4 linked regions of the Homo sapiens genome follow. The protein of the gene in region 2 interacts with the protein of the main gene of each other region in a pairwise test. Each region holds a gene or a part of one and is shown on either strand. Other genes may lie near its edges.

Evidence for each region.
Region 1: the proteins of DMTN (region 2) and TEX11 interact in binary tests that used the Homo sapiens proteins (3 or more experiments, as listed by UniProt).
Region 3: the proteins of DMTN (region 2) and GOLGA2 interact in binary tests that used the Homo sapiens proteins (3 or more experiments, as listed by UniProt).
Region 4: the proteins of DMTN (region 2) and CEP76 interact in binary tests that used the Homo sapiens proteins (3 or more experiments, as listed by UniProt).

Annotation. Positions count from the first base shown.
Region 1 is NC_000023.11:70,548,696-70,555,725, reverse strand, and holds part of TEX11 (testis-expressed protein 11), read left to right. Parts: intron 1-925; coding exon 926-1,075; intron 1,076-2,311; coding exon 2,312-2,420; intron 2,421-3,479; coding exon 3,480-3,600; intron 3,601-7,030. UniProt on the Homo sapiens protein: Regulator of crossing-over during meiosis. Involved in initiation and/or maintenance of chromosome synapsis and formation of crossovers.
Region 2 is NC_000008.11:22,051,797-22,059,817, reverse strand, and holds the start of DMTN (dematin), read right to left. Parts: upstream 3,005-8,021; 5' UTR 2,682-3,004; intron 1,955-2,681; exon of another isoform or gene 1,853-1,954; intron 739-1,852; exon of another isoform or gene 322-738; intron 1-321. UniProt on the Homo sapiens protein: Membrane-cytoskeleton-associated protein with F-actin-binding activity that induces F-actin bundles formation and stabilization. Its F-actin-bundling activity is reversibly regulated upon its phosphorylation by the cAMP-dependent protein kinase A (PKA).
Region 3 is NC_000009.12:128,259,008-128,266,007, forward strand, and holds part of GOLGA2 (golgin subfamily A member 2), read right to left. Parts: coding exon 6,963-7,000; intron 6,875-6,962; coding exon 6,781-6,874; intron 6,685-6,780; coding exon 6,578-6,684; intron 4,086-6,577; coding exon 4,027-4,085; intron 3,698-4,026; coding exon 3,556-3,697; intron 2,751-3,555; coding exon 2,661-2,750; intron 2,555-2,660; coding exon 2,447-2,554; intron 2,253-2,446; coding exon 2,165-2,252; intron 1,796-2,164; coding exon 1,458-1,795; intron 1,183-1,457; coding exon 1,069-1,182; intron 385-1,068; coding exon 160-384; intron 76-159; coding exon 1-75. UniProt on the Homo sapiens protein: Peripheral membrane component of the cis-Golgi stack that acts as a membrane skeleton that maintains the structure of the Golgi apparatus, and as a vesicle thether that facilitates vesicle fusion to the Golgi membrane.
Region 4 is NC_000018.10:12,672,125-12,678,753, forward strand, and holds the end of CEP76 (centrosomal protein of 76 kDa), read right to left. Parts: intron 6,319-6,629; coding exon 5,985-6,318; intron 2,630-5,984; coding exon 2,412-2,629; intron 1,380-2,411; coding exon 1,241-1,379; 3' UTR 501-1,240; downstream 1-500. UniProt on the Homo sapiens protein: Centrosomal protein involved in regulation of centriole duplication. Required to limit centriole duplication to once per cell cycle by preventing centriole reduplication.

The sequences.
Region 1 (7,030 bases), on a different chromosome or scaffold from region 2:
AAACTCATCCTGAAAGGAGGGCCCAATTCCCAGTTCATCTTATGAGACTATTATCCTGATACCAGTAGTAGACAAAGACAATATAAGAAACTGCAGACCAAGATTCCTCATGAAAATAGATGCAAAACATAAACGCAGAAAAGCAAAGATAGTTGCTACCTTGGTTGGATGGTATTGACTGGAAAGGAGCACAAAGGAACCTTCTGTATTGTTGGAAGTGTTTGTTATCACAATCTAGGTAGTTATTACACGGGTTTAAACACATGTAAAAACTCATCAAGCTGTTTAAGGTTAGAGCACTTCTTTCAGTTTGTTGTATATATGTCATACCTCAAAACATTTTTCAATGTTCAATCTACCAAGAAGGATGAATGAAAAGTGTCTCACATAGTTTAGTGTATGACACCTGACATGAAATTCTTTCTATGCTGATGCCCAAGAAATTCTGTCGACTAATGAAACAGTTTGGAAACTCTCCTCTATTCTGCTTAAAATAAAGTCACTGTTGGTTTATACAGCACTGTATCTTCTGGTTAACTCGGCCATTAGAGTGAGCACCAGCCCAGTTGAAAGTTCACAAGAAGCAAGTAAACACTGGATTTGATTTAGAATCAATAATAGCAGCAGGGTTTTCTCAGGCTGTTTAGAAGCATCGTGGCAATTGTTTGAGAAAATATAGGTAGTTCTAGTGAATGCGCTACAGAATGTTGGAAGTAGCGGTTAGCTTAGAGATTTTAAAATGTTAGAATCAAATAAAAAACAAAAATAAAATTTAGAATCTGTCTACAGCAGTGAAGATGACCTTCAAATTGTAAGTAAAATTAATATTTCTTAGAAGGAAAACCTCTCCAGTTAGTGAAATTACAACCAAAGAGAATAATATAATATAATCACAAAGAATGTTGCATTTTTGCCTCTTTCTTAGGGACCTTCTCAAATGATTCATGTGAGAAATTGCTTCTGCTGTACGAGTTTGAAGTTAGAGCCAAATTGAATGATCCATTACTGGAAAGCTTCCTGGAATCAGTGTGGGAGTTGCCTCATTTAGAAACTAAAACTTTTGAAACAATTGCAAGTAAGAGCTATATTTATGCTTTTGTAAGGCTGGTGCCCATTTAGATCGTATGACTTTTTTTCTTCTCTTTACTCTTCTTTCTTACCTCCAGGTAGGAAATAATTTTTTCTCATAGCACTTTGTTTCTCCTTCTCTAATGCCATTCTTAGACTATTTTGTATTATGATCATTTGTGCATTTATCTTCTTCACTCTATGAGATTATAATCTCTTTAGGGTCATAAACAATAATTACTTAATTTGTACTTACAAACCCTAGCGAAGTTCATTGCTCCTAATAGGTGCTCAAATTTTTTCTGTGTGGAATTTAATTATGTAACTACACAACAGGGGGAGCTCAAACTTTAGAAAGTTTTTCTGGGCTAGCTAGAAATAACTGAGTGCTTCAACAATCAAAAGTGATGCAATCTTAGCTGTTTGTTGAAATGTACAGAGAAATACTGGTAATATTTTTTAACACAATTGCCACTCTCAAATTTCAGGCCAAACTTTACGTGGGTTTGGGGGCATAGAGCCTTTTTGGGAGTACACTGCAGGAAACAGCCTAATTATCTTCCCTTTTTATCTCTCACCCTCTTCAGGAGCATGTGTGTGGTTAATAAAAATATTAGGTAGCTCCAAGTGCACAAGAGTCACATTTGCCTTTCCTTGGTCTTGCCAAGACAGAATTCCTAGAGCCATGGAGCAGATGATATATACTTTATGGACATGTGACAGCAACCACTGCTCCTTGTATAATGGAACTCCAATTCTAAAAATCTGTTAAATGCATCTGGAAGTCTTAGGGTTAGTTACCTCTGATACTCCCTTGTCAAGTGTTTCCTATTTTTAGTATCAGATAAAAATAGGACATTTTAGTACAAACCTGTTTCAATTAGTGCCCTTTTACTGATCTGCTTTCTGTTTCCTTCTTAGTGTGCCCTTCCTTGACTGTCATTCATAAGATTATTGCTTCACCTGTATGACTGTGTGCAAGGTCATACAAACAGTAGGTTTTCTGTTGATGTTTGCTGAAAAAAGGATGTTACCTGGTAATCCCACCATGCTACTCTGCCCAGAAAGTAGAAGCTATTTCCAAAAGCGACTGTAGATTTATCATTTATAAAATTCATTGTTGTTTATTTTTGTTCATCTGTTTCAGCCCAGTTTCATTAGAGAAAGCAAGTGGTAGCCTGGGATGAAAACTGTGATGGGTGACATTATCATGTTCACAACCTTTTTCCTTTTCTTACTCTAGTAATAGCAATGGAAAAGCCTGCACACTATCCTTTGATTGCTCTCAAGGCCTTGAAAAAGGCTTTATTGCTCTACAAAAAGGAAGAACCAATTGATATATCACAATACAGGTTAGTAAATACAATCCAGCCTTTTTGCTAGCCAAAAGAACTATAGTCAATGCCTCAAAAGTAACCAATCGTTCTTAATTGACTCAACTTTAAAGATGATATGGGGATGATCTGGGGGCATTCTTGTGAACAGCTCCATACTGAGAGTTGTATTACAGACCAATAATTATTTAGCAAAGTCAAGGAGCTTGGTTTTCCCAAAGGAGAAAAAAAAGGGGAAAAGTTGCTTCTTTGTGTGAATCTGTGTATATAATAAAACTGCTAAGTACCTTTCTTTCTTTGTTTCATCACTAAATAATATTCCAAATGTACAGAAAAGCACAGGGGTTAATATAACAAACACCAACGTATCCACCACCCAGATTTATTTGTTTTATTTTTAGAGATGGGGTCTCGTGATGTTGCCCAGGCTGGATTCAAACTCCTGGGCTCAAATGATTCTCCACCTCAGCTTCATGAGTAGCTGGGATTACAGGCACGCAGCACCCAGATTTAACAAATGTTAACATCTTGCTATGTTTGCCTCATTATTTTTCTAAGCACTTTAAGCACCGATAAGTGCTGTATAAAATATTATCTATTGGAGACTTTTTTGTTTTCTGTGTCCAGACATGGGGAAAAATAGATGTTGTGTGACTTTTTTTGTCTGGAAAACATCATTACAGTCTTCCTGTGTTAAGGCACGAAAGACAGTTCTTGTGGAATCATTCCACTTTAAACCCCAGTTCCCTTGCCCATTTGAGGAAGTACCGAGATGCTTTAAAATGCCTGTAAATTGAACCAGCTCATAAAATATAATAGACAGCCACAACTCCTTCGTGCAGGAAACTAAAAAAAGAATGAAAGACAACCATAGGCATGAAAAAAGAAAGGATTGGTCAACCTGTTTTACAGCTTCAAAAATCTGTCTTCTGAGGTTGGAGGCCAGATAAAACCGAGGGAAGAACAGAAGTGTTTTGAAGCTGTTAGTCTGGGATGAGATCCAGGTTTTACTTATCTTAGCCATGAAGCCAATGATTTCTTTCCTTATGGGATGAGTTTTCTCTTTTTGATTTTCAGCAAATGTATGCACAACTTGGTTAACCTCTCAGTGCCAGATGGGGCGTCGAATGTAGAGCTCTGTCCCCTGGAAGAAGTTTGGGGCTATTTTGAAGATGCTCTGAGCCACATTAGCCGCACTGTAAGTCAAATAGTGATATTAAACTTTCAGTTAATTTTAAAGAACTGAACTGTCTTGTGTACTATAAATTATATACAATAATGCTTTCTGATATGAGTTTTAGGATAAATTCATATTACAATTTTGTAGTTACACACTACAGAATTTTCCTGGGTTTCTGAAATATAAATAGTTGAAAGTAGACATTTTCTAACACAAGTGTATTATGGATTAGGTCCAAGTAGCAGTACCACCAGGCATTTTGAATTATTTTATATTTTCAAATCATGGTGGGATGATTACTTTCTCTGTGATGATATGAACCTTTTGAAAAAAGTTATTGCTATTCCCATCCTTTCTCAGAAGCATCCTTTCTCAGAAGAGTAGAAGGAACATTGAAGACCTGTATTCTAGTCCCTCCTCTGCTGATTTCTTTTTCTTTTCTGTGCAGGTTTATTCAGTTGTTTTAAAATTAGGTTTCTTGAGGTATAATTCACATATCATAAAATTCACCCATGGCTTGTGCACAATTCAGTAAATTTATAGAGTTGTGCAACTATCACTACAATCCAGTGTTTTTTAGTTTTAAAAATGTTTTATTTTTAATTTTTGTGGGTACATAGCGGTGTACATGTACCCATACTTATGGGGTACATGAGATTTTTTGGTACAGGCATATAATGCATAATAATCATATCAGGATAAATGGGGTATCCATCACCTCAAGCATTTATCCTTTGTGTTACAAGCAATTCAATTATACTTTTAGTTTTTTAAAATGTACAATTAAATTATTGTTGATTATAATCACCCTGTTGTGCTATTAAGTACAGATCTTATTCATTCTATTTTTTGTACCTATTAACCATTTCCACATTTCCCCCACCCCTCCTCTGGTAACCATCACTCTACTCTTTCTCTCCCCAGCAGTTCAATTATTTTAATTTTTAGCTTTCACAAATAAGTGAGAACATGTGAAGTTTGTTTTTTGTGTGTGTGCTGGGCTTATTTCACTCAACATACTGACCTCCAGTTCCATCCATGTTGTTGCAAGTGACTGGATCTTATTTTTTTTATGGCTGAATAGTACTCCATTGTGTATAGGTACCACATTTTCTTTATCCATTCATCTGTTGATGGACACTTAGGTTGCTTGCAAATCTTAGCTATTGTAAACAGTGCTGCAACAAACATAGGAGTGCAGATACCTCTTTGATATACTGATTTCCTTTCTTTTGGGTATATATCCAGTAGTGGGATTGCTGGATCATACGGTAACTCAATTTTTCGTATTTTGAGGAACCTCCGAACTGTTCTCCATAGTGGTTGTACTAATTTACTTTCCCACCAACAGTGTGCAAGGGTTCCCTTTTCTCCACATCCTCACCAGCACTTCCTATTATTGCCTGTCATTTGGATATAAGCCATTTTAACTGGGGTGAGATGATATCTCACTGTAGTTTTGATTTGCAGTTCTCTGATGATCAGTGATAGTAAGTACCTTTTCATATGCCTGTTTGCCATTTGTTTGTCTTCTTTTGAGAAATGTCTATTCAGATATTTTCCTTATTTTAAAACTCGATTATTAGATTTTTTTTCCTATAGAGTTGTTTGAGCTCTGTATATATTCTGGTTATTAATCCCTTATCAGAGGGGTAGTATGTAAATATTTTCTCTCATTCTGCAGGTTGTCTCTTCACTTTGTTGATTGTTTCCTTTGCTGTGCAGAAGCTTTTTAGCTTGATGTGATCCCATTTGTCCATTTTTGATTTGGTTGCCCATACTTGTAGGATATTGCTCAAGGAATCTTTGCCTACTCCAATATCCTGGAGAGCTTTCCCAATATTTTCTTGTAGTAGTTTCATAGTTTGAGGTGTTCGATTTAAGTCTTTAATCCATTTTGATTTGATCTTTGTATAAGGCAAGACATAGGGATCTCAACTTTCCTCCTTCTGCATATGGATATCCAGTTTTCCCAGCACCATTTATTGAAGAGACTCTTCTTTCCCCAAAGTATGTTCTTGGCACCTTTGTCAAAAATGAGTTCACTGTAGATGTATGGATTTATTTCTGGGTTTGCTATTCTGTTCCACTATGTTGAGCTGCCTGGGGCTGGAGGAGGGGTGATACAAGCACCCTTGTGGCCACTGCCACTGGGACTGTGCTGGTCAGACCTGAAGCCAGCACAGCACTGGGTCTCACCCAAGGCCCACTGTAACCACTACCTGGCTACCACCTATGTTTGCTCAATGCCTTAGGGCTCTACAGTCAGCAGGTGATGAAGCCAGCCAGGCTGTCCTTCCCTTCAGGGCAGCAACTTCCCCCTGGCCCCAGAGATGACATGCAGGAGCCAGGGCCTGGAGTCAGAAACCCTAGAAATCTACCTAGTGCTCTATTCTACTGCAGCTTAGCTGGTATCCAAACCACAAGACAAAGTCCTTCCCACTCTTTCCTCTTTCCACACGCAGAAGAGTCTCTCCCCGTGGCCACCACCATCAGGTGGTGTGGGGAGTTCTGCTGGGCTACTGCCAGTGTTCACTTAAGGCCCAAGGGCTCTGCAATCAGCTTGTGGTGAATGCTGCCAGGCCTGGGACTCATACTTCAGAGAAGTGGGCTCCTCTCTGGCCCAGGACAGGTACAGAAATGCCATCCAAGAGCCAAGGCCTGGAACCGGGGACCCTAGGAGCCCACTTGGTGCTCTAACCCACTGTGGCTGAGTTGATATCTAAGCTGCAATACAAAATCCTCTTTACTCTTCCCTCTGCTTTTCTCAAGCAGAAGGAGTCTCTCCTCATAGCCACCACAGCTGGGAATGTACTGGGTCACAACTGAAGCCAGCATGTCTCAGAGTCTCACCTAAGGCCCACAGTATGTACTACCTGGCTACTGCTGCTGATCACTGAGGGCCAAAGTGCTATTTAGTCAGCAGGTGATGAATCCTGCCGAGACTGGGTCCTTCCCTTCAAGGCAGTGGGTACCTTTTAGCCCGAGGTGTGTCTCAAAATGTTATCTGGGAACTAGGTCCTGGAATGGGACCTTCATGACTATGCCAAGTGCCCTGTCCTACTGTGGCTGAGCTGGTATCCAAGATGCAAGACAAAGTCCCCCTTAAGCTTCCCTCTCCTCTCCTCTAGTGGAAGGAAGGGGTCTGTTTTGGAGCTGCAAACTGCACTGCCTGGGGTTGAGGGAGGGGTCGTGCAATCACTCCCTTGGCTGCCCTGGCTGGTGTCTCACTAGGTCGCATGTCCCCCAGATGCACTGGCTCCAAGCCCAGCACAGCACAAAGATTTGCCCAGGAGTTGCAGTCCTTGTGGCCTAGACTGCCTCTCAAATTTATTTAGAACCCCAGAGCACTTTAGCTCTCAGTGGCAAGGCTTGTTGGAACTCAAGTTCCAACTACTGGGATGGACAATTGCTCTCTAGCTAGGGCTGGTCTAAATACTCCCTCCAT
Region 2 (8,021 bases):
AGAATGGCAACTTCGGGGTGGAGGGCCCCTGGTCTAGCTGTGCTCCTGTTTCCAGCCAACCACTACCTGCTTGGTGGCAGCCCCTGTATACTTGGGACTTTCATACATCGTCTCTAAACCTCACACAAAACGACATTCTCCTCATTTAGAGATGAGCAAAAATGAAGCTGAGAGGTGAACTTGCCGAAGGCCCCCCAAATAGAAGCCAAGCCAGAATCCCTACCCCGGCCTGCCTGAGGCCAAAGCCAAGTGCTCTTTTCAATGAGTACCAAAGATCCCAGTTCAATCAAAATGTGGGACTTGGGGGTCCCACGTGCTAACCTTAGACAGTGGAGCCACCCAGAGTCCTGCTCGTTGATGGCATCTGTAGAAGAGCAGCTGGGAGTGTGGGGGCCTCTGGCTCCGGGCCACACAGGCAGCAGGGTCCAGCCAGGCTGGAGGCCGGCTGGTGCAGACAGTAAGTGAATTATGAAACGAGGCAAGTCATCCAAGCAGGCTGGCGTCGGTGGGCAGGGAACTTTGCCCCGCTTCGCCTTCTCCTGTTCTGTTCACAGTGCGACTGCCTGGCCCTCTCTCCCTTTCTTCCTCCTGTCTTTCTGCTTTCTCTTCTGGTCCCTTTTCTTGGCTTTCTTCATCTTTTCTCCCTCCCTCCCTCTTTCCCTTTCACCCTCTCCCCTACCCAGCCCCACCCCCGCAGTTACTGTGGCAACAATTCAATGCCAGAAATAAAGGCAGAATCCAGCTAGGTCACCAGTTCCCAAAACAGCATCCTGGGTGGGGAGGGGCAGGGAGGGTGGAGCAGTGCGGCGCTGCAGGGCAGGGGCCAGGCGCTCCCATGGGTGCTGTGCATGCGTGTGATGTGGGTGGGGTAGGGCACCTTGCTCCCCGCACCCCCCCGCCACTGGAAAAGGACACCAGGAGGCTGAGGCCTGCTCTGGGCCAGTGGCTCATCAGAGGTGTCCCTTACTTAGGCGAAGCCTGAACTCCAAGTCTGTCCTAAGGCTGGCAGAGCCTGGGGACTCCCTCCTCTTCTCCCACTTTCTCCCTCTCCCCTACTCCAATGTTTTTTACCGTTGTGTCTGCTGGGATGAGGGTTCCCCTAACCCAGCACTACAGGGCACCCTCTCATACTCGGATAAAGGACCAGGCCTGGGTGGGTGGGGAGCCCAGAGTCCCCCTGCTCAAGGCCTGCCCTCCCTTGTTCTCTCAATAACAACAAAACCGGGCCCAGGTGCCCCCTCCTGCCTCTCTAGCCCACCCAGAGACGCATCTGTGCAGCCATCTTCTCCTAGGTCTCTCTCTGGTTTGGTTTCTATGTGCCCTCTCCACCCACCCTCTGAAGAGACCCCGCTTTCTGCTTTCTGCATCCTGCAGCCCCCTCAGGCGGACTGCTTCCCCTCCATTTATAGCTGGTCCTGTTGTACAAGTGGGACTGGCAGAGCTGGGGGAGATGCAGCCTCAATTCAGCTTTCTGGATCCCAGGGCCTCCCTGTTCCAGTCCCACAACACCCAGGAGCTCTAGGAGAGGGATTCTGCAGACATCCACCCACGGGTGGACAACCTCACCCAGGAGTCTAACGCCTGACCACAGAGAGGCCGGCAGCACGGACACAAGATGGACAGGTGGGCACAGGCAGAAGCGCCCGCGCTGAAACCGTTGCAGGACGCATGCACGCGGGGAGACTCCGAAGCCCTGTGTGCCAGCTCATGCCCCCACTCTCCCATCGAGGCCCCCTCACTGTGACACATGGTGCTGCCAACACCCGCTCACACCCACCCACCGGTCCTCTCCCTGGCATCCATCCCAGAGTAGTGCACGTGTACAGCAACATACACAGAGCCCTCCACTTACCCAGCTCTGGAGGCCTTCCCTGGGCTCCCCATTCCCACAGCCCAACTGCCTTCCTTGTCTTGGACCTGTCCCTGCTCCCCTGACTCTCACAACCAGGCAACTGGTCCCTGGAAGGGACACACTGGGTGTGTCTGCCCAAGAAAGGGGGCTGGACCTGCTAGGCCCTGAGGGACAGAGCTAGGGAGGGGGAGCCCCAGAACCCTGTGGGGGCTGCATGTCTGCTCAGCCCTGGCCCCTTCAAGCACCCCAGCGGCGGGCACAGGGGGAGTACTGGGCTTGGGCTTGCAGCTGCGCCCTGCCACAGCCTCACTCTTCACTCAGCCCCACCCCAGCCTGGCCAGCCACTGGCTGGGGGCAGGCTCTCCTCCCACTCCCCCTAAAAAGCAGGCTCCAAACAAACAGCCTCAGGCCCCTAAATGTACTGCTCCAACCCCCAGAGCATGTGGAGTGGTTTTGGGGAGGCCAGCGGGCCAGTATTCAGCAGAGAGGGAATGCTCCCCTGCCCACCCCGTGCCCCCACAGTCCATCCCTTCCATTGCTGGCCTGCTCAGCTAGGTAGGCCAGGCAGAGATGCTGGCAAAGAGGGGATTGGGCTGGGAGCAGTTCTCATCCTTGGGATGAGAACACCCCAGGCCCTCTTCCCCAGATCAGAAGGTTCCATTAGATCAGGCCCAGCTGGTCCCAGGGGCCGGCCCATCCTCCCACTGAACAGGGCCCACAGTGGGCTCCCCCCAGATACCCTGCTGCCACCCAAAGCCTGGCTCGCCAGCAAGCGCTGTGGCCCAGAGTGCCCACAGAGGGGAGGAGAGGCGGAGACCCTGCCACCTACCTCTTCCCAGACAGTGTGGCCCAGACGCTCTGAGGCCACAGAGGCCCGAGAGGCGTAGGCCAGATCCACGGGCTGTCACTTCCCCCAGGAGCCTAGGTAATAGGTGTCTCTTCCAGGAACCCCGCGGCGCTTCCCCGGAGCACAAATAACAGGAAAAATGCCGGCTTAGGGTGGGTGGGCGGGGTGGGAGCTGGCGAAGGAGGGGAGCTGGTCTCGGCTGAGCGGTCTGATCTCCCCTCTGGGCCCCCACCCTCCTTGCCCCCACCCTGCTTCTCTGCAACGCACGGCCGCCTGGATCCCCCGGTGCTGGGGAGTCCTCGTCTGGGGGCGGGAGGGCGGGCGGGCTGCTGGCTCCCCCACGCCCTCCCCGCGCCCTCCCCACTTCCAGCTGATAGCGTGTGGCTGGCAAGGGTGTGTGTGTGGATGTGCGCGCTCTTCCACCAGCGCTGCAGCTCAATCCATTTCAAACAAGAGGAGCATTAACCCAGCGTCATGACAAAGCAGAATCAGCCAGCACTGTCCTCTCCCTTTCCCACACCGCAGTCTGCAGCACTCACACGCACACACACACCCACACGCACCCAGAGCCCCTCAGCCTCCTCCTAAACAGCCAGAGTTCAAGTTGCTGTGGGCGGTGGGTCGAGGGAGGGGGCTACTGATGACCCAGGCGGACAATGCCTGCTTTCTCCAGGCACCTGCACCTCCTACCCTATTCATGACCACCCCACCATCTGACAGCAGCAACTGAGGCCTCTGGGGCCCAGCCTCTTGAGGTGGGGGTGCAGGCACAGGCCAGAATTGGTTACCCAAGGATGAGCTCTCTCCTGGGAGGGTAGAATGGAGGGATGCAACCAGGTCCTCAGTACTGAGACTTGAGCTGGCCCCTCAGTAACCTGAATCCCCTGGGAACTCCAATGGGATGCAGCAGAGAGAGAGAAGGACCCCATCTCTCCCTAGGGTGGCTTCATGAAAAAGGAGCTTCCTGCCTGGTAACCCCTGGGTCCCAGCACAGAATTTACAGGCATGTGCCTTCCCTGTCTCTAGCAAAGCCTCAACCACCCCAGGAGCCTCTCATTGGCCTTTCGGGCCCCCTGGGCAGGATGGGGAAGGACAACAAGCCTTGCCCTCGACCCTCGCCCTGGCCCCAATGTCCTCTCCACCTCCACACCGCAGACTTGCCTACCTAGGCAGCCCTCACCGTTGCCCTGGCAACCCTGCCCCCAGCCGGTCAGCTGATGGTATCAGCTGTTGTTGGGGAAATCTAGAATCTGGGGAGGGGGCTCTGGGGTGTCTGAATGGAGAAGCACAGGGGGAGGGGCTTGAGGGAAGAGGCCAGGAGGGGACAGAAAGTATCTGGCTGGTGGGGACAGAGAGGACAGTAACCTGAGGGATGGGCTCCAGAGAGAAGGGAGGAAGGAAGGAGGCAGGTGGCTGAGAAGGGAGACAGAACACAGGCTGAGCTGCTGCAGCCAGGCGGGGGTGGCTGTGAAGGTAGAGAAAACCTGGGGGTGGGGGATGAAGCATCAGATCCATGGAACTGCAGAGAAAAAGGCCAGGAGAGTGATGTGGGAGGGGGCATACCTTCAATGTGGCAGAAAGGGGCACAGCCTTGGAGGAGGAGCCACTCCAGCCATCGCTCCACAACCAGCCCGGCCTCAGCCCAGCCTCTCGGCTTTCTGTACCTTCAACCCCACCCTTACTTCCCTCTAATCAGAGTCTGAGAGACAGAGGGGAAGCCCCAGCCCCACTCCAGCCCTAGATGATCTCTCTCGGTCCCTCCAGCGGACCAGGTACTTGGGGCTTTGACACCTCAGCCCTTTAGAATTCCTGATCCCCGCCGCACCCCGACCTGGGTTCCTCCCCTGTATTGCCCCTCCCCCACCAGGCCCCACCCCAGGAGAGCTGTCTTCTGGTGCAAGGGTCCCCAGAGGTAGAGTTGGAATGAGCTGATGCCAGGAAGGACAGCTGTGGCCAGGGGCCTGGAACGAGGTGGGTGATGAGGAATGGGTAGAATCGCTGGGCCTGGGAGGAGGGGTGCCTCCTCCTATTGAAGCCAGTGCATGTAGGGCAGAGTAGGGGGAGTCAAGGGGAAAGGGCGGAGGGGAGAAGGAGGGGAGGGTGCTCGGTACCTTCAAGGGCCCAGGGCGTGGGGCAGGAGCGCAGCAGCCTCCTCGGTGACATACACCTCCATCCCTCGGCGCATCTCCTCTCCACCTCCTGTTGCCAAGACAACCTGCCGGCAGCTCAGGCCCGGCTCAGCCGCGGCAGCAGGGAGGGGGGGAGGAGGAAGCTGTGCCTCCCGCTGCCTCTTCCTCAGAGATGGAGGGAGGGGGCCTGAGGGTGGGTCCTCAGTGCTGGGGCTGGGGGTTAGGGGACAGCTTCAGGAGCTAGGGTGCCCAGTGAACCCCACCAAGTACCCCATCCCCCCACTTCCTTTCATAAGGCTCTAGAATTGGCTTTAGGGGTGACCCCAGGAGAACCCTAATTCAGGGCTGGAGAGCAGGCCAGTCTTGAAGAGTATGCAGCACTGGGGAGAGTCCCCACTCCAGGAAGCCCAGTGTGGAGCTCGGGACAATGACAGGCAGCAAGGCAGGGACAGTCCTTGTGCTGAAGGGCCAGAGGGGTTGCTCCGGCAGGGTTCAGAGGCCCCTGGGCGCTGGCTGCACTGGGCACGCGGCTGCGGGCCCCACACCTCTGCCGTCTCTGTGAGCACCTTCACCTGGTCCCAAACCCTCTCTCATTCCACCTGAGAAAACTCAGAGCAAGGGACAGCTCTCTTCCAATTCCTCAAGGCCCCATTCCCACTGTCCCCCACCATGCCTGAGTCTCACATTCTATCGGAATGTCCCTCCATGGGTGGGGCGGGCGGGCCACCTTGGGCAGGAAGAGTGCTCAGCCCAGCCAGGCCTGGACCCAAGGGGACTGCAGAGTGAGGGCTCCCTCTGTCGACCTGAGGAGTGGTAGCTGCCAAGGTCATTTTGCTGCCAGGGATCTGGGCTGTGTGTGTGTGTCTGTGTGTGTGTGTGTGTGTGTATTGGTGGTGGGCGTTCAGAGGGGAGGCAAGGGGACCCTTCTCACCCATGCCATCCTCTGACCCTACCTCGTCACTGTCCTTGTCCCATGGGAAGACTCACTCTGCCTCCGGCCTCCTCCCCCTGGGAAGGCCTCTGACCTCTCAAGGCCAGCTGAACTGAACTCCCCCATGGCTTGTCTGAGAGGGGAGATTCTCCCCCTTGAAAGCTGGCAACACTGAACAACAGGTGCCTGTTGGCTCAGGCCCCAGGCGGGTGGGCTTCCTCAGCTCTGCTCCATACTGAGCAGGCAGGAGGCGGCTGCCAGGGCTCTCATACCTTTGGAAGTTCAGGAGTTCTCAGGACCTTGAGGATGGGCGCTTGTGTCCACAACACGGGGCCAGGATTCCTGTATCTCTCAGGCAGGGGGGTCCCAGGCCCCCCGACGCCCCGTTCTTGGCTCCTTTCCCCACAAGGTCACTGGTGCCAGATGTCCTGGGTGGACTCCGGCCCTGCTGCCTCCTCCCTCCCCCAGGCCCTGTCGATAGGCTTCTCTGTCCACGTCTGGTCTGTCTCACTCCAGTGCCCCCCGGCCCCACCCTACACACCAACCTGCTGGGCGGGGGAGCTATCTAAACATTAACTTCGGGAGAGGTGGAGCCAGGGCACCTGGACACTCAGGGAGGAAGGAAAGGGTGACAGAGACCTGAAGAAAAGGAAGGATGAGGGCCCCAAAGCCACCATTCTCACCAGAGATTGGGAGCCATGTGCCCCTGCCTCCGGGCATTGGACTCTGCTGCCCAGACCCTAGAGCCTCCACTCCTTCAGCATGCTGCCACCAGACCACTGCATCTGGCCCCCGCAAAGCCCCTCACCATCTCCTCCCTGCCACAGCATAAGGACCAAACTCTTCATCATTTGATCCAATCACTTCCTGCCACTTCTCTACACAAATTTCAGCTCCAGCCAAGTAGACGGACTATTCCCCTTCCCTGGAGCACACCTCCCATTTTGCCGCCTTGATTCTCGTGCCCGTTTTTCCTCTCGTCATTTTCCGCTCTGTGCATATTTTCTCCACTGAAATCATCTGAAATCATGCAAACCCCAGACCTTCCACAAAGCCCCCGCAAGCACCCTGGCCTGTGCTCTCTCCTGCCCCAGAACTCACGATGCCTGGGCACACTTTGCAGGCAAAGTGTGGAAGCCGGGCAGAATCTAGAGTGCAGTGCTCACTAGCTGTGAGACCGTGAATGGCCTGGCATTTCTGAGTGTGAACTCATCCACATGTGCTACATGGGAACATCTCACTGCCCTAAAGAAGGATTGCAAGCAAGTATGCCCTGAGTGTGGCCTAGCACATCTCCTGAGCTCGGTACATATTAGTTTCCTTATTCCCAATAATTCTTATCTCCCCTTTCCCTCTTTGGGGACGTACGAAAAAAAAAAGGTTGCTTTGTTATGTCATGTGTAAGAGAGGGTTTTCCAAAAGTCCCACCAAAGAACAAATAATTGCCTTTTTATGGGTTTATCCCTCCAATTAAATTTCAAGTGCCTTGAGAGCTCTATCTTGTCCATGTTTTTTATTAACAGAAGGATTAGCACAGGACTTGAATGTTGTGGGGGGAAAATAAACACTGGGACTAACTGCTTAAGCCCCCGCCCCACCCACGTCTGCCTAAAGAAGGAAGGAGAAGGCAGGATTCTGGCCTCTCTCCTGCCTCTGCCTAGAGGGATGGTGGGGTGTTGGGCCAATGACTTCTTTCTAGGGCTTCAAGTGGTTTATTTCCTCAATAAACATTTACCCTGTGCAACATACTGTGCTGGGCACTGTCGGGGAGGAAAAGATGGACTATTTCTACATCTGGGGCACTTGCTATTTAGCGGAATCATGACAAGCACATACATCATGACAGTTCTGGACAAGCTGTGACATGTACCACAAGGCAAGGGCAAGTGAATGGCTGGCAAGACCAGTGGCAGTGGAGACAGTCGCTCATCCCGGGGTAGTGCCAAGAGCCTATGGAGCAGAGGAGGAGCCTGCGGTCTGGGTGTGTGTGTGTGTGCTAGAGCAGGACACGCCAGGTGGCGGGGACCCTTCAAATGAGAATGGGGACATGCTTGCTTGATAGAGTTCCAGTTTTCCAGTATTCTTAAAGGGGAGTTGTGGGGCTAGGGCCGAATAGGGAGACTGGACAGGGCTGGACAGGAGTCTTAAAGATGACGCTAAGGAGTTTGGCCGGGATAGTGTGGCGTGGGTAGAGCTGTGGTTGATGGTAGGGAAGGTAAGTGGAGCAAACTCGGATGTACTGGACTGGAGGGCAGTGTTGAG
Region 3 (7,000 bases), on a different chromosome or scaffold from region 2:
TTCCCCAGGGTGAGCCATGAGGCTCAACTGGGCCCGTAGCTGCTGATTCTGCTGGGTGGCAGCTTCCAGGCGCTCCTAAGGGGCCAGAAAAGAGAGTGAGAAGGCATGGAGGTTGCCAGGTTGTCCCCCTCGGGGCCCTGCCCTCACCAACTCCCTCACCTGGGTTTCCTGCAACTCTTGGCGGGCCATCTCGGCCACCGCTTTGCCCTGAGCTTCCTGCTGCTGCAGCTGGTCCACGAGCTGGGTCTGCAGCAGTAGCTGATTATGCAGCACCTCCTTCTCAGAGGTCAGCTGCTGATAGGCGGCCACATACTGCTGCAGGTGTCCCAGGTACTGGTCTCGCTGCTGCTGCAGACTTTGAGCCTCTTGGCTCTTCAGCTCCACCTGTAGGAAGACCCTGGGCGTGAGGGCAGGTGGTGGCCTGCTTCCAGATTCAGGGCCCATAAATAGGGTAGCGAGGGCTCTGTCACCTGCCCAGACCTCTGGCCCCTTGCTCCAGGCCTAAGTGACTGCCTCCCTTGTCTAGAGCCTCGTGCCTCCTTCCCCAGCCTCAAATTTCACATCCTTCTTCCCACCATTTAAACCGTAGGCCACAGACTGGTGGAAACGCAGAGGGAGCCAACCACCATCTGCTAAGTGTGCTACATGCCTAATGCTTTCCACGTATTATCTCATTGAATCCTCAGCACCTCTGCAAGGAAGATGCTAACTTCCTTTTTAAGTTAAAGAAACTGGGGCTTAGAGATGCAAAGTAGTTGAATGATGACCAGTGGAGCAAAGGCCAGAATCCAGTTTGAATCTAAGGAGCCTCTTATGCCGCTGTCTCTTCCCCTGTGATTGGGAGAAATCCATGCCTCTAGCTGGGACGATGATGTCCAGACCTGAGAGGAGCCCAAAGCTATCCACCTCTAAAAGTCAGAGGGCAGGGAGCAAGAAACAGTCACAGGACTGCCCTGGAGGGTGCTGGGGTCACCTGTGCCCCAGGCTGGAGCTGCCTCTGGCCTCACACCACCCCTCCCCAGAGGCTGGTGCCCGCCTCCCAGCCCTTCTTGGATGGGGCGGGGTTACCGTTTCCTTCAGCTCGCTCAGCTTCTCCTGCAGCTCGCCCAGCTTCTTTCCCAGCTCCCTCTTGACGTGCTGCTCCGACTGCAGTGCGCTGGTGATCTCCATGTTCTCATTAGTCTGGACAGAGAGAAGCAATCAGCGGCCACCCACTGCAGCTGGAGACCCCAGAACTTGCTGCCTTGGTGTCTGCCTCCCATGGCACCGGGAAGGGTGGAGGCAGGTTAGAAAAATCATCCCCTCTCCCCCACAGCCATCGGAGCAGGGCTCTGGCTCACAGATGCCTCCAGAAGTACCATTTCAAGTGAGGGCTACACTGCCCCACTTTACAGGTGGGAAAACAAAGGTCTGGAGGGCTAGGGAGGAGGGCGGGCTCTCCAGGTGGGGCAGCGCACCAGCTTTACAAATCCGCTCTGCAGCTCAGCCAGCTGCTCCTTGAGCTCCCGGTTCTGGGAGAGTGCGCGGCTGATGGTAGTGCGGTCGTTCTGCATGGTCTCCAGGATTTGCCTGCGCGCCTCCGCCTGCTCCCCCCAGAGCTCGGCCGCCCGCTCCAGCTCCAGCAGCCTCTCCTCCTGCTCCCGGTTCAGGCGACTCAAGCCCTCATTGTCTTGCACCTGGGCTTGAAGCTGTCCTGCCAGACCCTCCAGCTCCTTCCGCAGGTGCTCAGCCTCCGCTTGTAGCTGCTGCTCCACCTCGGAGGGCCCTGCTGGGGGCTCTGGGGGCGGGGGTTCAGCTGAGAAAGGACGCAGACAATAAAAGCCTCTGGATTCTCAAAAAAACCCTCCTCTTGGTCCATACCTCCTCTCAAGCTCCCCAAACTTGGCCTCCCTGCTGATGATTCCTCGCACCCGGATGTTAGCCAATCTTCCAAACCACTTTCCGATAGCGACAACTGTGGGTGGCTGACAACGGGCACTCCTTCGTCTTTGCTGATGGGGCACTGAGGCTCATGGAGATGACGAGACTTGCCATCTCCTGGCACAGACCTCTTTCCCTCTGCCTCAAAGCCATTCCATCCACCCAACTCCCTGGGGCATTCTAAACCACCCCCACAACCCTCTGACACCATTCCTGCTCCCAGGTCACCCCAGCCCCAGCTTACCCATCTGGTTCCTCAGTTCAGCCAAGCTCGTCTCCAGCTCCTGTACCCGACTCATGCTACATTCCTTCTCCTCTCTCAATGTGTGCACCTGCCCAAAGCACAGCAAGAAAGGGCCCTGGAGAGGGGCTGGTGGCTGGACAGGCTACCATCTCCCTCTGCCCCCACCGCCACAAAGCCCAGACCCATGACCACCTCTGGCTGTGCTCCTCCCATTTCGCAGATGCCCAGAAAGATCAAGTGACCTATCTAAGGTTGAGGGGGAGCTGAAGGGTCAGGTCTCACCTGCTCTGACATCTGCTGCATCCTCTGCCGCCACATGGCGCTCTCTCCTTTGAGATTCTCCGCATATTTATCTCTCTCCATTTGTAGTTGTCTAACCGACTCCATTACCTGCAAGAATGGCCACAGAAATGAGGAAGGACTGTCACTGGTTGTCACCTACTCCTGGCCACCTGGGGTCATCTTCCTTCTACATCCCTCCCCTGCAAAGCCTCACCTGCCCCAGGTGTGCTTCCAGCTGTGCCCGCTCCTCCATGGCCTGCTGTAACTGCTGGTTAGCATCAGGGGCTTCACACCGGCTTGAAAACTGGATGGTGAAGAGCGAGAAGTTTAGATCTGGGGAGCCCAGGCCGTTCCAAATAGTGCCCCTTAAAAGGGCTAGGGCTAGGCTCAATGTGCAACTCAGTCAATACAACTCTGCTGTCAAGTTTCTTTGCTTTAGAAATAAAAAATAATTTTAAAAAGATCTCAGGCCAGGCATGGTGGCTGATGCCTGTAATCTCAACACTTTGGGAGGCTGAGGTGGGTGGATTGCTTGAGCTCAGGAGTTCAAGACCAACCTCGGCAACATGGCAAAGCCCCGTATCTACAAATACAAAAATTAGCCAGGCATGGTAGTGTGCGCCTGTAGTCCCAACTACTTGAGAAGCTGAGGCAGGAGGATGGCTTGAGCCTGGGAAGTAGAGGTTGCAGTAAGTATCACTCCAGCCTGGGTGATAGAGCGAGACCCCGTCTAAAAAAAAAAAAAAAAAGATCTCTACTCTCTATTATTAGTGAAAGTGTTGGCTTGAACCTCAGAAGGAAATAAACAGACTCATGAGCTAGCCATATAAATGTAATCTCTAAAATAATGGTTTTCACCCATGATGCTTTAAAACAAAACAAAACAAAACAAAACAAAAATTGTCTTAAGCCCTAACCCTAAGATTCTGATTCCCCAGGTCCCCAATTTGTAGATTTTTAGCACTCTCTAGAGGATTTTATGCCAGGACCGGAACAAGGACCCAAATTTTCCAGCTCTTGGCTGGAGTCTCCCCATGCCCTGCATGATCCCTAGACCATGGCCCCAGCTGGATGGCGCTCCCACCACCCATGGGGCTGCAGCCTCTTGCCTGTTGAAGCAGGAGTTCCGTCATCTCTAACTTCTTTTGCAATTCTTCCAAGTTAAGCTGCATGCCAGCCTTCTCAGTCACTAGGACCCGAAGCTTCTCTTCCAATTCTGATTTCTCTTGCTTCAGGTCCTCATTGCTTTGGCTATGGCCAGAGGCAGTAGAGAAAGGAATGAACGAAGAACAGAAAGGACTGCTTTGGTGATCCACCCTCTACCCTTGCCCCACAACCACAGAACTGTGGCACTGGAAGGAACCCCAGGAATCAAAAGTCACATGTACAGGCCAGAGAAAAGATACGAGTTACCCAAGGCTACACCATGAGTCAGTGGCACAGCTGGCACTAGAGCTTTGCTGGGCACACATGCACACCTCTATGACTACCTCATCATGCTTACCTGTACCCCCCACCTCCCAGCACACCACCCATGCTGAGGGCCCCCAGACCTCCCATCCCACCATCCCCCATCCTACGTGTTCTTGTATAACTCCAGCCTGAGGGCGTCTCTCTCTTTGGTTAACTCCTTGTTGTACTGTAAATACAGAAAGGTTAAGTCAGGATATAGCAGGCAGAGGAGCAGCTGGCCAACCAGTAACAACAGCTACAGTAAGTACTCCACAGTAACACTTCCTCACTCTCAATCACACTTGACATGTTTTCAAGGCATTTCCAAGCCCATGGTCTCATTTTGTTGTTGCTGTTGTTGTTTTTGAGACAGAGTCTCCCTCTGTCACCCAGGCTGAAGTGCAGTGGTGAGATCTCAGCTCACAACCTCTGCCTCCCTGGTCCAAGTGACTCTCCTGCCTCAGCCTCCTGAGTAGCTGGGACTATAGGCGTGCACCACCATGTCCGGCTAATTTGTTTTGTTTTGTTTTTTCTGAGATGGAGTCTCTGTTGCCCAGGCTGGAGTGCAGTGGCGCAATTTCGGCTCACTGCAAGCTCCGCCTCCCGGGTTCATGCCATTCTCCTGCTTCAGCCTCCTAAGTAGCTGGGACTACAGGCCCCCGCCACCACACCCGGCTAATTTTTTTGTATTTTTAGTAGAGACGAGGTTTCACTGTGTTAGCAAGGATGGTCTCGATCTCCTGACCTTGTGATCCGCCCGTCTCAGCCTCCCAAAGTGCTGGGATTACAGGCGTGAGCCACCATGCCTGGCCTAATTTTTTTATTTTTAATAGAGAGGGGGTTTCAACATGTTGGCCAGGCTGGTCTTGACTCCTGACCTCAAGTGATCCGCCCGCCTCAACTTCCCAAAGTGTTGGGATTACGGCACCCGGCTGGTCTCATTTGTTTTTAAAAAAACTTGGTAAGGGTGGCCGGGTGCGGTGGCTCACGCCTGTAATCCTGGCACTTTGGGAGGCCGAGGGGGACGGATTACGAGATCAGGGGATCGAGACCATCCTGGCTAACACGGTGAAACCCCATCTCTACTAAAAAAAAAAAAAATACAAAAAATTAGCCAGGCGTGGTGGCAGGTGCCTGTAGTCCCAGCTACTCGGGAGGCTGAGGCAGGAGAATGGCATGAACCCGGGAGACAGAGCTTGCAGTGAGCCGAGATGGTGCCACTGCACTCCAGCCTGGGCAACAGAGTGAGACTCCGTCTCAAAAAAAAAGGACTTGGTAAGGGTGGAAGGAACAGGGAGAGAGAGCGAATTTATGTATGTACGTATGTATGTATATATGTATTTATTTGAGATGGAGTCTCCATCTGTCACCCAGGCTGGAGTGCAGTGGCGCCATCTTGGCTCACTGCAACCTCTGCCTCCCGGGTTCATGTGATTCTCCTGCCTCAGGCTCCTGAGTACCTAGGATTACAGGCATGCGCCATCATGCCTGGCTAATTTTTGTTATTATTTATTTATTTATTTATTTATTTATTTATTTTCAGACAGAGTCTCCCTCTGTCACCCAGGCTGGAGGGCAGTGGCACGATCTCAGCTCACCGCAACTTCCGCCCCCGGGTTCAAGCAATTCTCCTGCCTCAGCCTCCCAAGTAGCTGCAATTACAGGGGCACGCCACCACACCTGGCTAATTTTTTGCATTTTTAGTAGACACAGGGTTTTGCTATGTTGGTCAGGCTGGTCTCGAACTCCTGACCTCAGTTGACCCACCTGCCTCGGCCTCCCAAAGTGCTGGGATTACAGGCATGAGCCACCACACCTGGCCAAGATCGAATTTACAGCTGGCTAACAGAGGCCCAGAGAGATCAGATAATATTGCTATTGTTATTATCATTATTACTACCACTGTTTGAACCTTTATTGAATGCTTCACCAGGCACCATGCTAACAATCCCATTTAATCCTCATAACCACCACATGAGACAGTTACTATTATTACCTCTATTTTGTAGATGGACAACACGGAATATTAGAGGTTAAGTGCTTGCCTAAGATCACTTAGACAGAGCTCGGATTTGAACACCCAGGTATATCTGACTCTCTAAGCTCATTTGTTCCCCGAGGGTGGGGGCACAAATAGGAAGGGGGAAATTATCTTTTGTTCAGTTTTTGAAAGGATGATATATTCAGATAGTCCAAAACTCCGAAAGGGCAGAAGGGAAATATCTTCCAGCCGTGCTGTTCCTCTCTCCTGAGTTTGTTATGAATCCATGCAGACACGTTTTATGTATATTGTCATAGTACATAGGTACACATACACACACACGTTCCCTCTCTCTACACAAATGGTAACATACTAAAGATACTCTTCTGTACCTTCACAGTACAAGTACCATATTCCCCCACCTAGGACTTGACCAAGGCCACAGCCAGGTAACGGCACAGCGGGCACTTGGCCTCCGAGCTCTGCGTCCAGTGTTCACTCCCCACAGTGCCCCCAAACTCACCCACAGCAGCTGACTCAGCCCCAGGATGCCTCTAGCAACCACACACAAAAGCAGTGATAAATGGCCCATGCTGCCTTCTAGGCAGGACAGTCAACCCTGCAGAAGGGACCTTTAGGCTCACTCCTCCATCTGGGAAGCCAGTATGCCAGGGGACGGGGCAGGCAGTTGGACTCACCCTGTCTGCCTTCTTCTGCTGCGTGGAGACAGCAGAGAGAGCCCGCTCCAACTCTCCCACACGCCGCCGGGAATACTGCAGGCGGCTGGCCAGATCTTCAGACTCTCCTGGAATGAGAGAGGTTGAGATGGGGCCCAAAGGACTCCCCCTAAAGGCCTGTCAAAGTGCCAGGTTGAAGGATGATGGGGTGCCCAGATTCCCACCTTCTTTCTGCCTGGCAGCATGCTGAGTGTGAGCCAGGGCTGTCTGTAACTCAGCTTTCTCTGATACGAGGATCCCTATGGTCTGAATGTGAACCTTTGGGAGGAAACCCAAGCAAGTGCTGAAAAAGAAGGAAAGAAACATTCTCCAGAGGACAGGACGGAACTTCACACCCTCCACTCACCTGTAACTGCTCCCTTAGGGCTCCCTGCTTTTGGTGGC
Region 4 (6,629 bases), on a different chromosome or scaffold from region 2:
TTTTTTCTGAGATGCAGTCTCGCTCTGCCTCCCATGCTGGAGTGCAGTGGCGCGATCTCACCTCACTGCAACCTCTGCCTCCCAGGTTCAAGCGATTCTCCTGCCTCAGCCTCCTGAGTAGCTGGGATTACAGGTGTGAGCCACCGCACCCGGCCTAATTTTCGTATTTTTAGTAGAGACAGGGTTTCACCATGTTGCCCAGGCTGGTCACGAACTCCTGACCTCAAGTGATCCACCCACCTCGGCCTCCCAAAGTGCTGGGATTACAGGCATAAACCACTACGCCGAGCCTTACAAAATTTTTAAAACGTGCTCAATTTTAAAACAAAAATCAGTATGGAATCACTCACATATGCTTGTTTTCAGTGGTCTCACACAATCAATCTCTTATTTAGATTAGTCACATATATGCTGATTTTTTTATCACAATGAAAGAAAAAAGGGTTTCAGAAGATAGAATCCATGAAGAGGCTAATAATGAATCCTCTGACCACAGAAAATCAGTGATCGACTGCAAGATCACAATTTATCAGTATCATAACAAAGAGGTATAATAAAGTTTTTCTAAAATACCCAATTCATTTTTACAACAAATCACAGTGATAAATATTTCTAAATGATTCATGTACTTTCATATGAGGTTATTAATATTTATGCTTTTCTGGTATTAGTTTTTTCCTACTCTTGCTTCAAGGTCCAACCATAAATTTCTGGACAGTCTCAAATATCCCAAGGACCACGAATAAACCACAAAAGTGGTAATTCATTAACATTTATTTTCACCAATGCAATAAATAAATCTGTCATGAGGTTAATTTCTCCTAATCTGTATAAAATAATTCCATTAACCTGTGAAAAGTAATGATCATACTGATTTGTCTAGGGCTCAAACCCTTAGACAAACATCTCTTTGATTACCTGTTTGTGTAAAGAAAACTGAATGCATTTTATATTAATATTTAAACTACTGATAACTGTAAACAAAGTAGCATTTATTAAAATAGAATATACACTTAATTTATACTAAATTCCAGGGAGATTTATACAAGTTTTTCAGCCTTAATTTTTAAAGGAATGCATGATTTTTTTTAAACATTACCAGTCAAGTATATACAAAATTGAAGTATGCCATTCAAGCCAGATTGTGATTTTAAAATAACAAACCTCTAAATAGCTAAGTAATGTACAATGTGTAAAATTCCAATTAAACACAGGTATAAATCTTATATAAATATTGGCCCTATAATACCGAGCGATATTTACAAGCAAACATGATCCAAACAGCACATGCAGATTCAGGGTAAGTAAATACTCGGACACGAACTGCCAGTCGCACTTGGTCTCCACGGCAACAGATTATTTCTTCACAGAAAGGAGATCTATTTAAGAAAAAAAAAATTATTCAATTAAGAAGTGACCATACACTTTAATTCCTTATTTGCAAGTAAATCAGTATTTAAAATAATTTTTTCAGGCTAGGCGTGGTGGCTCATGCCTGTAATCCCAGCACTTTGGGAGGCCGAGACAGGTGGATCACCTGAGGTCAGGAGTTCAAGACCAGCTTGGCCAACATAGTGAAACCCCGCCTCTACTAAAAATTACAAAAATTAGCCGCGTGTGGTGGCGGGCGTCTGTAATCCCAGCTACTTGGGAGGCTGAGGCAGGAGAATCGCTTGAATCCAGGAGGCAGAGGTTGCAGTGAGCCAAGAATGTGCCACTGCACTACAGCCTGGGCGACAGACTGAGACTCCATCTCAAAAATAAATAAATAAAATAATTTTTTCAAATTCTGTCTCTGCTATCAAAGACACTGTAATTTTGGTCAAGCTATTCAAATTATAGACTATTTCCTTATAGTCCAAACAAAATCAGAGATACCTGAGACTGCACCAAAATCACTGGGCAAATAATCCCAGACTATCTAGGGCTACATTTCAGACCAAATGAATCAAAATCTGTGGCAAGGAGGGTCAGTCATTGTAAAAGCTCCCATATGACTTGGATGTCATTTCTAAATAACTACCAGATTAGGCTGGGTGCAACGGCTCACACCTGTAATCCCAGCAATTTGGGAGGCTGAGGTGGGAAGACTGCTTGAGCCCAGGAGTTCAAGACCAGCCTGGGCAACATAGGAAGACCCCCATCTCTACAAAATAAAGATAAAAAAAATAGCCAGGTATGGTGGCACATGCCTGTGGTCCCAGTTGCCTGGGAGGGTGAGGTGGAAGGGTCACTTGGGCCCAGGAGGTCAAGGCTACAGTGAGCCATAACTGTGCCACTGTACTCCAGCATGGGCAGCAGAGCAAGACCTTGAGTTAAAAAAAAAAAAAAAAGGAAATTAAAAAAACCCCTGCCGGACTGATCTGTAAGACTCCTAAACTGAAAAAATGATTCCGTAAATTACACCTTACCGAAGACATGTGGCAAATGCACGTCTTGCATTTCTATACACAAAATGTATTGGGAACCCTTTAAATGTGTGACCATCAGGTACAGCCCTTCTTATGGCATCTTGAAATTCTTCATTGCCTGCTGATATACTTGTTGTACGCTCAAATTCATAAGAAGCCAAAGCTGGTGATAAAAGGTAGGAGAGCTGGTCTTCCCAAACAGTAGTGAGGCCAAGATCCTATGAGCAATCAAGAGAAAAAGAAAAAGTGAAATACATTAATATTTTTAAAACCAACTAAATAAAAATGTTGATTATTTTAATGTATACCAAGAAAAGATTTTTAAAAGCTATCATAATATTTTAATAATAATAATTATAGGGATACATAGAAATAAAAATCAGATAAAAGGAACTATAGGTGATCAGATTTTACTTTTTAGAGAAACAACCAAAAAACATTCAAAACAATGTTCACAAAGTCTCCAAATCCTGTACTTCTCTAATATCTACTACAAAATACTATATGAAATAGTCCTAATATGGAGGACAGGTATAATTCTTATATTTTGAGATATTTTACTTAACTTTAAAGAGTTTAGGCCGGGTGCGGTGGCTCACGCCTGTAATCCCAGCAGTTTGGGAGGCTGAGGTGGGCGGATCATGAGGTCAGGAGATTGAGACCATCCTGGCTAACAAGGTGAAACCCTGTATCTACTAAAAATACAAAAAATGAGTTGGGCGTGGTGGCGGGTGCATGTAGTCCCAGCTACTTGGGAGGCTGAGGCAGGAGAATGGTATGAATCCGGGAGGCAGAGCTTGCAGTGAGCCGAGATCGTGCCACTGCACTCCAGCCTGGGCAACAGAGCGAGACTCTGTCTCAAAAAAAATAAATAAATAAAATAAATAAAAAAGAGTTTAGTAAGAATGAATCTGTTTACTAAAGACTGACTCTTCCTACCATAAACTCAACTACAGAGGTGAGAAAAGTCAACAAATTAATTCTATGTGATTAAACAAATATTTACTGAACATGTACTCTATAAAACTTATATACTGTAAGAGATAAAAAGATGAAGACATTTTATAGGCCCTTAGGGAGCTTAAAACATATTTCTATGGAATGTTAAAAACAACATGATTCCATTTATTTTTTATTTTTTTAAATTTTTTGAGACAGAGTCTTACTCTGTTGCCCAGGCTGGAATGCAGTGGCGCGATCTCGGCTCACTGCAACCTCTGCCTCCCAGGTTCAAGCGATTCTCCTGCCTCAGACTCCTGAGTAGCTGGGACTACAGACACCTGCCACCATGCCCGGCTAATTTTTGTATTTTTAGTAGAGACGGGCTTTCACCATGTTGGCCAGGCTGGTCTCAAACTCCTGACCTCAAGTGATCCACCCACCTCGGCCTCCCAAAGTGCTGGGATTACAGGCATAAGCCACCGTGCCCAGCCCATGATTCCATTTATAACACCAAAAGACCTATTGATATCTGGACACATGAAGTTAAAAATAATAATATTACAAATACAAAAAATTCTCAAAATTCTAGATATTTTGATTATCATAATGGATCTTTGGTATTTCCTCATTTTATATTCAAGGTTTTAACTCATCACAAATGGTCTCAAAGATCCACGATTAACAATGCTTTTCCTGCGGCAAAATGTGAACTTTTGCTGATTTACAGGCACCTTAACTTAAATAGTGATCAACACTGGCATCTATCACAGCTTTGTTTTCTTTTTCTGTAAACAGTAATTCCTTTTTTTTTTTTTTTTTTTTTTGAGACAGGGTCTTACTCTGTCACCCAGGCTGGAGTGCAGTGGCACAATCTCGGCTCACTGCAACCTCTGCCTCCCCGGCTCCTTTCACCTCAGCCTCCGAGTATCTGGGACTACAGGCATGCACCACCACACCCGGCTAATTTTTGTACTTTTTGTAGAGATAGGGTCTCACCACGTTGCCCAGGCTGGTCTTGAACTCCTGAGCTCAAGCAATCCACCCATCTCAGCCTCCCAAACTGCTGGGATTACAGGCGTGAGACACTGTGCCTGGCCAAAAGTAATTTTTATAAGATATTGCTTTTATTTGTAAGCAGAACCTAAGAAAAGAAAGCTAAAGCCAATACAAGTGATGGAAGGAAAGAAAAAGTAATAAGGGGCATTCATTTCCAGCAATATAATGGACCAGAGGTCCCCTGACCAACTTTTGCTGAAAACATATTACAAATGCCAGGTTTTCCAAAATGTATGTTTAAATGCTTTGATAAGTTGACAAGTGAATAAGAAATATTTAGAGGCCAAAGCTAAGAGTAACTGGGAACCCAGAGAACATGTTTGATAAATCAGTTTGCCTTTGATAGCCCCAAAGAACACAGAAAACAGGGCTCACCCAAGGTGAGGAGTGGAACAGGGAACCCTAAAAGGTGAATCAGAAATATTTTGTAGGCATTTTGGATTCTAGTCCTTTGTTGGTGATATGTGTTACAAACAACTTTTCCCACCCCACAGCTTCAATCTCTTAATGTCTTCTCTTGATGAGCTTAAGTCTTTAAGATACATTAATCTTTTCCTTTATGACTAATACTTTTTATGTCTTCTTAAAAGCACTTTACAAAGGAAATCTACATGCTATTTGACAAGAGGCTTGATCTGGCTGGGCGCAGTGGCTCACAACTGTAATCCCAGCACTTTGGGAGGCTGAGGCAGGTAGATCACTTCGAGATCAGCCTGGCCAACATGGTGAAACCCTATCTCTACAAAAAATACAAAAACTGGCAGCGTGGTAGCACATGTCTATAATCCCAGTTATTCAGGAGGCTGAGGCAGGAGAATTGCTTAAACCTGGGAGGTAGAGGTTGCAGTGAACCAAGATCACGCCACTGTGCCAAGATCACGCCACTGCGCTCCAGCCTGGGTGACAGAGCGAGAGATTCCATCTCAAAAAAAAAAAAAAAAAAAAAAAAAAGAGGTTTGATCTCAAAAGTAATCAGGGAAATGCAAATTAAAGCCAGACGTCTACCCAGTTGAGTACAACATGAAAACAAACAGAAACCAACCTGGGGAGAAAAATGAATATGAAAAAAGTATAACCCAGTATACATATTTTTTCTTTAAAAAATAATAGAGATGATGTTTCACCATATTCCCCAGGCTGGTCTTGAACTCCTGGGCTCAAGCGATCCACCCACCTCAGCCTCCCAAAGTGCTGGGGTTATAGGCATGAGCCATCAAGCCCAGCCTAACCCAGGATTTTTTAAGGGGCAAATATGTGAATAAGCATTTCACAAAGACAAAATCCAAATAGTGGTATTCAGCAAAAATCTTGACTCTAAGGGATGTGAACAAGTTCACCATTCTTCATTTCTAGGAGGAAGTAATTCATTCTATAAGTATTAATTAATTTGAAGATTTTTGAGTCTCAGAACTTGAACTCTCATGACTTTCAAAATTATAAGCTTCATAATAGTAGGGACTGTAGTTGTTTTGTTCAGGGCTAGAATAGTGACTGGCACTATCACACACACCAAAAAACAGTTAAATACATAAATGAAAAGAAGTATGAAACTACAACTATTTCAGTGTGAATTACCTTCCTGTGTTCTGACACCAGGAGCCTCAGCTGCATTTCAATTTCATTACTTGTTACTGACGCGTCAATTGTGGATGCACACAGAGGTGGAAAGGGAGGAAGGGATGTTGTAGCTCCAGGAGCACACACAGATTTAATTGCTTCCTCACTCATGGGTTTCCATTTGGATTCATCGTTCAAATCAAATACACAGGTTTCTACTGCATCAGAGGGTTGACAATTTCCCAGGAACATCTGATGGTTGAAAACACAACCAATTGTTCGATATGGGTACAGTGGTTTGGGCTGTTCAGCAACTGGAGGTTCATCAGGATTGGTAGGTTTATGGATGTACCTAAAAAAATTAAATAATTTTATATATGAGAACTTAAAAATTAAAAAGGCAGCATCTTACTGAGAAAATTATTCTAACACTTAAGGCCATAACTACTTCTCAGAACTACAGTTTAATACTTGTTTTTCTTTTTTATATTTCCACAATTTGATTACTCTGTATTAATTGTATGGTACGTCTTTACAATATTGAAACCAACTCTGTTAACAACAGAATACATTCTATGTATACTGTTAAGATCAAAGGCCGGATGCGGTAGTCCCAGCACTTTGGGAGGCCGAGGCAGGGGGATCACCTGAGGTCAAGAGTTC